2 linked regions of the Homo sapiens genome follow. The protein of the gene in region 2 purifies or fractionates together with the protein of the main gene of each other region. This does not show direct contact. Each region holds a gene or a part of one and is shown on either strand. Other genes may lie near its edges.

Region 1 (5,423 bases), on a different chromosome or scaffold from region 2:
GCTGGAAGGAGCCTGATCGACCTCGTCCCCTCAAGGTAAGGCAACTCCATCCTACCTCTGCTCCACCTGAAACAGCTGGAGTTGTTGCTACAAGGGACTATGACAAAGCACTTTATTTAGAAACCTTTGCCTGGGACTTGGTCGTTAGTAATGTGTTGAAATTAAAGGTATGGAAAGAAGGCTCAGTGCGCTAATCCTTATGGGAGGTGGGGTTATTTTAGCTGTTAAGAATCCTGAGTTGTCCACTCCAGTTATGTTTCCTGTGCCCTTAGCTCAGCGTTTTCTTCCCGATTGTCTTCTGCCTCTGCACCATCTTCCTGGTGGCTGTTCCACTTTACAGTGATACTATCAACTCCCTCATCGGCATTGCCATTGCCCTCTCAGGCCTGCCCTTTTACTTCCTCATCATCAGAGTGCCAGAACATAAGCGACCGCTTTACCTCCGAAGGATCGTGGGTAAGCCGTGCATCCTTAAGTCCGCTCAGCTATTGCAGAGCTTGGTTTTTGCCTTTTTCTGTAAATCCAGCCTCCAAAGACATCTTTGCCTTAGCCCCTTCTTATGAACCCTTCGGCTTAGTGGAATCACTCCCCTCACACTGAGTTCCATTCAGTGACACTTGAACTCAGCCCAGCTGACCTCTTCTCAATTCCAACTCAAAGTTCTCTTTGTAGGGTCTGCCACAAGGTACCTCCAGGTCCTGTGTATGTCAGTTGCTGCAGAAATGGATTTGGAAGATGGAGGAGAGATGCCCAAGCAACGGGATCCCAAATCTAACTAAACACCATCTGGAATCCTGATGTGGAAAGCAGGGGTTTCTGGTCTACTGGCTAGAGCTAAGGAAGTTGAAAAGGAAAGCTCACTTCTTTGGAGGCACCTGTCCAGAAGCCTGGCCTAGGCAGCTTCAACCTTTGAACTTACTTTTTGAAATGAAAAGTAATTTATTTGTTTTGCTACATACTGTTCCAGACTTTTAAAGGGGACAATGAAGGTGACTGTGGGGAGGAGCATGTCAGGTTTGGGCTTGGTTGTTTTAGAAGCACCTGGGTGTGCCTACCTACTCCTCTTTTCTTTTAAAAGGGCCCACAATGCTCCAATTTCCTGTCTCCTTTAGAGAGACATGAAACTATCACAGGTGCTGGATGACAATAAAAGTTTATGTTCCTAAAGTCTGAGTGGCTTCATTTTATATAGTATCTATCTCTAGGACAGCTCCCATTAGCCTAGAAACACAAAGACTAAAATCAATCTTATGCTTGAAAGTATATCCATCTTTTCTCTCTCAAGCTAGCTGCTGAAGGCTGATAAACCAGGCTCTACACAAAGGCAGACAACAGAACACTTAAACTGCTCTAGTCAAATGTTGGATTGTTACATAAAAATGACATGAACTTCCTTTTTGAGACAGGATCTTGCTCTGTAGCCAAGGCTGGAGTATAGCAGCATGATCTTGGATCACTGCAGCCTCAACCTCCTGGGCTTAAGCTATCCTCCCACCTCAGCCTCCCAGGTAGCTGGGACTATGGACAAGCACCACCATGCTCAGCTAACTTTTTAGCAGAGACAAGGTCTCGCCATGTTGCCCAGGCTGGTCTCAAATTCCTGGACTCAAGTGATCTACCCACCTCAGCCTCCCAAAGTGCTGAGATTATAGGTGTGAGCCACTTTGCCCAGCCTGGAACTTTCATTCTTAATTATCACTAAGAATTTGCACACATCTACTTCTTGAAATTTTTAAAGTAATCTTGGGATCAAGAAGTGCGGTTACTATATTTAGATACAATCTCAACATTCAACTTATCAGCCACACCTCTAGACTGCAATCCAAATGTGCATAGAACAACACATGCATGGGTTGGAAGTTTAAACTGTTTTTTTTTTTTTTTTTTTTTTTTTTTTTTTGAGAAGGAGTCTCACTCTCTTGCCCAGGCTGGAGTGCAGTGGCGCAATCTCGGCTCACTGCAAGCTCTGCCTCCTGGGTTCACGCCATTCTCCTGCCTCAGCCTCCCAAGTAGCTGGGAATACAGGCACCCGCCGCCATGCCCGGCTAATTTTTTTTTTTTTTTTTTTAGTAGAGACGGGGTTTCACCATGTTGGCCAGGATGGTCTCGATCTGCTGACTTCGTGATCCGCCCGCCTTGGCCTCCCAAAAGTGCTGGGATTACTGGCGTGAGCCACTGCGCCTGGGTGGAAGTTTAAACCCTTAATGCCAGGTTAAAACATTATATTTTCCAAGGCCATGGGCCAGCAAAAGCAATCATGACTCACTCTATTCTTCAGTTTTCTTTTTTTTTTGAGACAGTCTCCCTCTATTGCCCAGGCTGGAGTGCGGTGGTGCGATCTTGGCTCACTGCAACCTCCGCCTCTCGGATTCAAGCAATTCTCCTGCCTCAGCCTCCCGAGTAGCTGGGACTACAGGTGTGCACCACCACGTGTGGCTATTTTTGTAAAACAGCAGAGATGGCGTTTCCCCATGTTGGCCAGGCTGGTCTCAAACTCCTGATCTCAGGTGATCCACCCACCTCGGCCTCCCAAAATGCTGGGTATTCTTCAGTTTTCTGAAGTGCACACTGATTTCCCTGTTCAATAAGTATCAGGAAGCAGCATGTAGTACAGAGGTTTACTAACTCTGTGAATGGGAAGATCACTTGGCTACCCAGTGCTCTCTTATAAACATAAGTACAAGAGTGTTTCATGAAATCCGTTTTTAAAATGAACATCTCTGTGTGCCACAGTTCCTAGGACTGGGGCAAGGACACAGTGTCAAGTCTTGTTTTGAGGATGAGTCTCTGAAGAGACAGAATTCCTGCCAGAATGCGCACAGAACATAAGTCAGCCAAGTGTGTCGTGCCAGGGATACTTTGACTTTGGTTTGCTGCTGCTGCTAGGGATATTGGGAGGGTTATCCTTTCCAGGTTGTAGGAGAGGGTTGTGGGTAAAGGTCTGTCGTAAAGGACCTGAGGGGAGAAGAGAAAACAAATTTCAACGAAGAACAGAAAGGAAGAAACAAAAGACAGAATTTGGCCTGAAAGGACTATTTACCCCTGGCTGCTAGCTCCAACTGATTCCGCATGCGTTGTTCACGCTCTCGCAGCTGACGCGTCATTTCAGCATTTTTCCAGCCTGTGTAAAGAGAAGCAAGAGAGTCAGTTGCATTCCTATTTTTAGACCCCTTTCCCTAGTCCTTTTTCACAGAGGATGAGCCCTTACCTTTTTTGAAGCTCTCTAGGAAGCCTTCCCGTGGAGGTAATTTGTCCAGGTCATGTACAACACGCTGGGGGATTTTAAGTACAGTGCGTACTGCTGGAATCCGGAGACAGGATACTTGGACCAGGGAAAACAAATTGGAGGAGAGCCAGTACATAAACACTGCCTGGGTGAGAACACAGAGAAGGGACTCAGAAGCTGTATCCCTGGTCAGCTTGCTAGGTGGCTAGGCTAGGCAGAAGGCCTTGGAGCCAGCCCATAAGGCATTACATACCGTGGGGAAATGCATGGTTATGGGCAAGGTTATCAGGGGCATCATTCTGATGACATTTCTCATCCACTGAAGGTCAGAACTTTGCACACCTGTCTCAGCACCTAGCTGCCAAAAGAAGTGGGGTGGAAAAGTCGGGAAAGCTGTCAGTTTCAGTGAATCTGTCTCTAATCTCTTACCCATCAACTCTTTCTCCAGCAAGTGAAGGATGACCATTCTGTACAACTACTTTACCCTCCAACCCCAGTTCACTTTGCAGGCCTGGCACTTGGCCAATCTGGGCTTACCTCAAGAACAGCCCACATTGTAGCAGTGACTGCCAGTGGTAATATGTAGATGGGATCGGATACCGTGAGATCCTGGAACCACCAGAGGCCACCTGTCTGCAGGCTGGGCACAGGAAGGTTGGCCATCTCTCTCAAAGCAATGAAGAAGGAGATGAAGATTGGGGCCTATTACACAAGATAAACAGTGTCAGCATGCTTTACCAGAGAGAACATTTTCATCACCCCACTACTGAAAGCCATGTATAATCCACCACCACCTGTTTTTTGGGGGACCTGGGACACATGAAACACAGAGAGGAAATTTCATGGGTACTGGATGAAATAAGGAAGGAAATGTTTTTGCTCACCTGAGTCACAGGGAGAATGAGAGGTTTATAGAGTTTAATACCATGTTTTTTCTGGTAAAGTGCCATCTCCGAGGAAGCCTTGTAATCTGTGAGGTGAGGGGAAATTAATGGTTGGGGTAACAGTTACATCAGTGGAGGTGAACATCCTCATTATCTACCTGGCCTGTGAAATTTCTAACCAACCCTGGCCACTCCTTGGGAGCATTAGGTCTAAGAAACAGATAAACCTTTAGAACTTTCCCGACTGTGGCAACTTCTGATTTACATTGTTCCTTTCCCCCAGCAGAATGTAAGGAAAAGTGCAAATGTGGACTTCTCCCACGCTCATTCTGCAACTGACTCACACTCAATATGGTCTCCTGCTAACTTGGCCTCTCTGATTCGACTGGAAAACTTCTGGATCTCTGGCAAGTGATTGTGGATCCTGGCTGCCTCTCGCTGGCCCGTCACGATGAGAGGAAAAATCAGGCAGCGGGCAAAGACTGTACCTGGAAAATACAAACTAGGATTGGAGTGAAATTAAAGCAGTTCTGCAGCTAGAAGGTTGAAGGCTTTTAGGTCCTTACTGAAAGGGTCTTATTCTTGCCTTGTCCATTCTATGACTCATGCCTAAGAGGCCCAGAAATAAGGTCAGGGGAATGAATTAGTTGCTTTAAGGCTCAGTTCTCTAATTTGGCATCACAAAAGTATGGCATTAACTTCTCTAAGCAGATGATTAGGAATCCTGTTTGTTTCCTCAAACAAAAAGCTGACAGGAGTGGATTTAGCAATTATGTTACTGGCAGTTCGAATGAGGTGATATGAGTAAAAGCCAGACGGCTGAGGGAGTAAATGGAAAGAAGTAGGCTAATTGGATGCAGAGCAGTCTTTTAAGTAACAGCTATCAAAAGAATGAAACCCAGTCATCTGTGACAACGTGGATGGAACTGGAGATCACTATGTTAAGTGAAATAAGGCAAGCACAGAAAGACGAACATCGCCATGTTCTCACTTATTTGTGAGATCTAAAAATCAAAACAAATGAAATCATGGGCAGAGAGTAGAAGGAAGGTACCAGAGGCTGGGAAGGGTAGTCAGGGTTGGGAATAGTTAATGGGTAAAAAAAAGTTAGAATAAGATCTACTATTGATTGCACAACAGGGTGACTATAGTCAGTAATAATAGCATATTTTTAAATAAAGAACGTAAAAATTAGCCAGGTGTGGTGGCACACCTGTAGTCCCAGCTACTTGAGAGGCTGAGACATGAGAATCGCTAGAACCTGGGAGGTGGAGGTTGCAGTGAGCTGAGACTGCACCACTGCACTCCAGCCT
Region 2 (5,068 bases):
CAGACAGCTTGAGTATTCAGCGCCGAGTAGGGTCGCCCCATTCCACCAGGAGGGAAGGCCTTGTCCCCCACGACCTGCCTATCTAAATTTTGGTGGATCTTCTTCAAGACCCAGAAAGAGATTCCCTTTTCTGCTAAGCCCCCACCACTTGCACTGTGGTTATGCGGCTCATCTGGAAACGCTTCCGTCATTCCTCAGACCTCAAACCCTGTTGTTAGTAGGAAGCATGGGCCTGACTTTTGATGAAAAAAAAGTAAAAATGTCCAGTCACCAGTCACACTTTACTTCTATGTGTTTATCAATACTTAATAGCAGACTATGGCATATAAACTGGGTTGTAGATTCATTTTTTAGATTCAAATAATTTCTCTAAAGCAGGTAGAAAACATTTAGTGAGTTTCAAATGTAATGTTATGTGAAATTCTTATTTTTGTTGAAAGATTAAATAATGAAGAGACCATTATTGTTGTTCCTTCTGAGCCTTCTCTGATTTTAAAATAGGTGTAACGTAGAGATCAGGAGCGAAACTAACATAGTGAAGGTTGTGGCCCCATAGTTCAGCTTGTGAAACTTTCACGTCGTTGTGTTGGCTTCAGATCTTCGGAAGGGAGAATTGCCCATCCAAATACAAATGAGGCCCCTCCCATCCCCTCCCCACTCCTGGTCCCACAGTCTCCTTCACAGCATTTGAACTGCAGGGAATGTTAGAGTTACCCTAAGACGACCCGTCACTAAGATGTAAAAATCTTTTTTTTTTTTTGAGACGGAGTCTCGCTCTGTCACCCAGGCTGGAGTGCAGTGGCGCGATCTCGGCTCACTGCAAGCTCCGCCTCCCGGGTTCATGCCATTCTCTTGCCTCAGCCTCCCAAGCAGCTGGGACTACAGGCACCCGCCACCACGCCCGGCTGATTTTTTGTATTTTAGTGGAGACGGGGTTTCACCATGTTAGCCAGGATGGTCTCGATCTCCTGACCTTGTGATCCGCCTGCCTCAGCCTCCCAAAGTGCTGTGTTTACAGGCGTGAGCCACCGCGCCCGGCTAAGATGTAAAAGTCTTAGAACGTCACACTACAGCGTGTGTTTCTGTGATGCCTGTTTCCCCAGGCTCGAGACCTCCGTGTGCAGTGCTTCCCCGAGCACAGGGAACCAGACCAGTGGGAGCAGGAAGGACCTCTGCGAGGTGTTGGCACCTTAGAAATTTCTCTATCTATCATTTTAAGAAAATCCACCGGCCTGCTGCGTCGCCATGCTTCTGCAGCTGGTCCAGGGACAGAGCTTCGAGTGGGCTGGCCCAGCCTCATTTCCCCCATCAACCCCATTAATTTTTTTGTATGGGTTTGCAGAAACGCGGTTTTTATGGAGGCATGGCACAGCACTGTAGGAGAAATGGCAACCTGTGTTGCTTTGAACTCTCTTACCTTGTTATTCGTAGGTGACTGTTAGTTACACTTGCAAAAGCCAAATGAAACACTGTCATGATTTTATAGTTCCATCTCTTGTTAAAATTGGAAAACCACTAAACTCTACCTATTGAAAGTAAGTAAAGGTAATTTTTTGAGTTGAAAAAGAAAGAAAGAAAAAGAGAAAAAAAGAACCTGGAGCAAAAAGAATTAAGTGCCTTTACTAGGATGAAAAGTCATGAATTACGGGCTTGTGATGACAGGATTTCAGTTTTCATTTGAATCAGTTAAATTATCATGCAAATTGATGCAAAACTGAGATCCATTTATTCATTGAATTAAAAAGGCTGGAAGGAATAAATAGACGAGGTTAGAAGAAAATATGTTGCTTGATTGAATGAATTCACTACTTTGCACTGTGTCTTGCAGTATGGTATTTGGAAGTCAACTGGATATCCATTCAGGTGGGATAGATTTAGCTTTTCCACATCATGAAAACGAAATTGCACAGTGCGAAGTCTTTCATCAGTGCGAGCAGTGGGGAAATTATTTTCTGCATTCTGGTAAGTAATAACTTCAGATTAATTTGTTCTGTTTCAATTCTAGCAGTTCTGTCTTTGTCGGCGGAACAGCTACATTTGGAAATACATAGTAGATCAGCTAATAGGTCAAGAAATGGATTTGCCTCTTAAATTATTTTTGAGTTTCAATCATTTGAACATGAGCTTCCTTGGATTGCAGCAATGATTATACCTTTTTGGAACTGACTAGAATATGGAAAATGTTTGGCAATGCTGTTCTATATAAGGTTTCTTTCAAGTAAAACTATTAAGAAGGAACTTGAAGTAGTACAATGTAACGATAATTATGAACATCCTTTCTGAAGCTATAATGTTGTCACTAGACATCTCTGCCATCTTCTAATAACATTGCCCTTTCTTCCACTGTTCAAACACCTAACTGATGAACCCCAGCTGTCTGCTCTCAGAAGTGGATGCAACACCATGAGTTAAGCAACACCTCGAACCCAGCAGTTTTGGAATTCACTTGGATGCACTGGAAGAGTCGTATTTCCAAGTTTACAGGGTCACGATTAACTAGTCTTATTACCTTTTGGGGATGGACAGCTAAGGTATTTGAGATGAAGAAAGATAAAGAGTGTTTGGTAGTGATAGGATTTGGAGATGCAAACTTCGACATCTAAAATACAGAAAATTAACAAATACTATCTTTTGAAGTCCTTGAATTGGGAAATTAGGATGTCACAGTAAAGTGACATTAAGTGCAGAAGTGCTCTGGTTTTCTGGTCCGCAGCAGAGTTCACTTGGGTTTCTTCGTGAAAGTACATGAGGCTGATTGCCCCGAAGTCACTTCCTGCAGCATGTCCTTCACCCCGGGCTTACCCTGTTGAGTCGGGGAACCCAGCAGGCGGCTCTGCCCCTACCATTACCTACTATGTCTGCCTCTCACAGTGCCCCAGTTTTTGTCTAAAAATGAAGCAGAAACAAAGCTGGCTGCGTGGCTGTTTGAGGACTTAGGAGCTGTTGTCCAGCACCCCATACCATTTCCCTGGGGAGGGCTCAGCACTAGCTGAAATCCACTTTATTCCGGTGTCGGTGGAGTTTCTAATCAGAACAAACGCCTGCCGCCCTCACTTCCGTTTCAGCTGGCGCTCACATGGGAAGGGGGTGCACGCTGCCCAGTGGTGGAATATTTAAGGCATCGCCCCTCAGGGAGCCGAGCACTGATTTCCACAGCCGGGGGCCTGCACTCCACTTTTGACCATGGGGAAGGAGGTCTCTCTTCCGTGGCCCAAGGACTTCTGAATTGTGTTCTTGGAGAGGAAGCGTGCTGGGAGCCCAGATAGTGGGGCTGAGACACTGTGTCTCAGGCACAGAGGTAGTCGTGTCCCTTGTCCCAGATGAAGAAAGATAAAGAGTGTTTGGTAGTGATAGATTTGGAGATGCAAACTTTGACATCTGAAATACAGGAAATTAACAAATACTAGTTTTTGAAACCCTTGAATTGGGAAATTAAGATGTCACAGTAAGGTGACATTAAATGCAGAAGTGCTCCGGTTTTCTGGTCCGCAGCAGGGTTCACTTGGGTTTCTTCATGAAAGTAAATAGATGAGGCTGATTGCCCCGAAGTCACTTCCTCGTTGACTTCGTTCAGGGCTCAGTTCAGCGCTCCCTGAACTGTCTGAGGAGCTGGAGTTGCTCCCTCCGCAGGCACGTTTCTGTCTGCAGGTTTATCCTGTTCAGTAGGTCAGGGTTTGTTACTGACAACCATGACCTGCTGTGAGCCCTTCTGCGAGTGTGGAGCTGGGGGGCAAGAAGGGCAGCCTTAGCTGTGCCAACGCTTCGTCCTGTCAGGTAATGAGGAGGGGCCGGGTCTAGAAACGGAGGTCGTGTTCACCTTCCGATGTGGGAATGGGAAAGCATTTGCTGTTGTTGTTGAAACAATTTCGCTCCGTCCCCCAGCCTGGGAGTGCAGTGGCACTATCTGAGCTCACCGCAACCTCTGCCTCCTGGGTTCAAGCAATTCTCCTGCCTCAGCTGTTCTAGTAGCTGCGACTACAGGTGCATACCACCATACCCAGCTAATTTTTGTATTTTTAGTAGAAGCAGGGTTTCACCATGTTGGCCAGGCTGGGCTCAAACCCCTGACCTCAAGTGATCTGCCACCTCTGCCTCCCAAAGTGCTGGGATTATAGGCGTGAGCCACTGCACGTGGTGGGAAAGTTTTGTGGCTATTTTTCAGTGATTTTTTACTACCTGTTAAGATACCAGCGATCTTTTTCATACTAGTTTGGCCCCAAACAAAACATCAGTGTCTCCTGACGCAGGAGAAGTGACACCTGTTCTCCTGTACCCAGTGGATGGAAGAGCTAAGTGGGCAGACACTATCCCAGCCTGTTAGGGCTGCTATAGCCAAACTGAAAGCGGGCGTGTTATGAACAACAGCAATGAATTCCTCACAGTTCTGCTGGCTGGGAGTCCTGCGTCAGCGCACTGGCAGACTCGGTGTCTCGGGAGGGCCTGCTTCCCATTTGTAGACGGCCGTCAGCTCTCGAGGGGCCTCTGTTATGAGAGCACTGATTCCATTCACACTGGCTCTGCCCCTGTGACCTCATCACCTCCCACAGGCCCTGCCTTCAGTTACCGTCACCTGAGGGCTGAGGATTTTGACAGGAATTTGGGAGGACATAAACATTCAGGCCTTAGCAAATGTGTTTTATTTTCCAACTATCATCAATTTTAAAAAATCAGAATCGTGCTTGGTGTAATCACATTATATAGAATTACATGTTCAAAGTTATATATGTTTTTTGGAAATCACATTCTAATTGGTTGGTTGGTTGGTGTATTTATTTATTTATTTTTGAGGCAGAGTCTCGCTCTGTGGCCCAGGCTGGAGTGCAGTGACATGAACATAGCTCACTCTAGGCCCAACCTCCTGGGCTCAAGCGATCCTCCCACCTCAGTCTCCTGAGTTGTTGGGATGTTGGGACTGCAGGTGTGCCCCACCACGCCCAGCTAATTTTTAATTTTTTTTGTAGAGACCGGGTGTTGCCATGTTGCCCAGACTGGTCTCCAAACTCCTGGGCTCAAGCGGTCCTTCCACCTTAGCCTCCCAAAGGGCTGGTATTACGGGTGTGAGCCACTG

What was found. The genes of interacting proteins can lie anywhere in the genome.
Region 1: the proteins of CARS2 (region 2) and OXA1L fractionate together in Homo sapiens (co-fractionation; one large-scale study listed by BioGRID). This does not show direct contact.

The regions. Positions count from the first base shown.
Region 1 is NC_000014.9:22,768,966-22,774,388, reverse strand, and holds the end of OXA1L (mitochondrial inner membrane protein OXA1L), read right to left. Parts: intron 4,599-5,423; coding exon 4,455-4,598; intron 4,197-4,454; coding exon 4,111-4,196; intron 3,929-4,110; coding exon 3,764-3,928; intron 3,585-3,763; coding exon 3,480-3,584; intron 3,372-3,479; coding exon 3,209-3,371; intron 3,122-3,208; coding exon 3,041-3,121; intron 2,956-3,040; coding exon 2,831-2,955; 3' UTR 1,347-2,830; downstream 1-1,346. Other genes in the region: SLC7A7 (Y+L amino acid transporter 1), read left to right, coding at 1-35, 273-456, 673-779.
Region 2 is NC_000013.11:110,664,234-110,669,301, reverse strand, and holds part of CARS2 (probable cysteine--tRNA ligase, mitochondrial), read left to right. Parts: intron 1-1,828; coding exon 1,829-1,962; intron 1,963-2,373; coding exon of another isoform or gene 2,374-2,531; exon of another isoform or gene 2,532-3,774; intron 3,775-5,068. UniProt on the Homo sapiens protein: Mitochondrial cysteine-specific aminoacyl-tRNA synthetase that catalyzes the ATP-dependent ligation of cysteine to tRNA(Cys). In addition to its role as an aminoacyl-tRNA synthetase, has also cysteine persulfide synthase activity.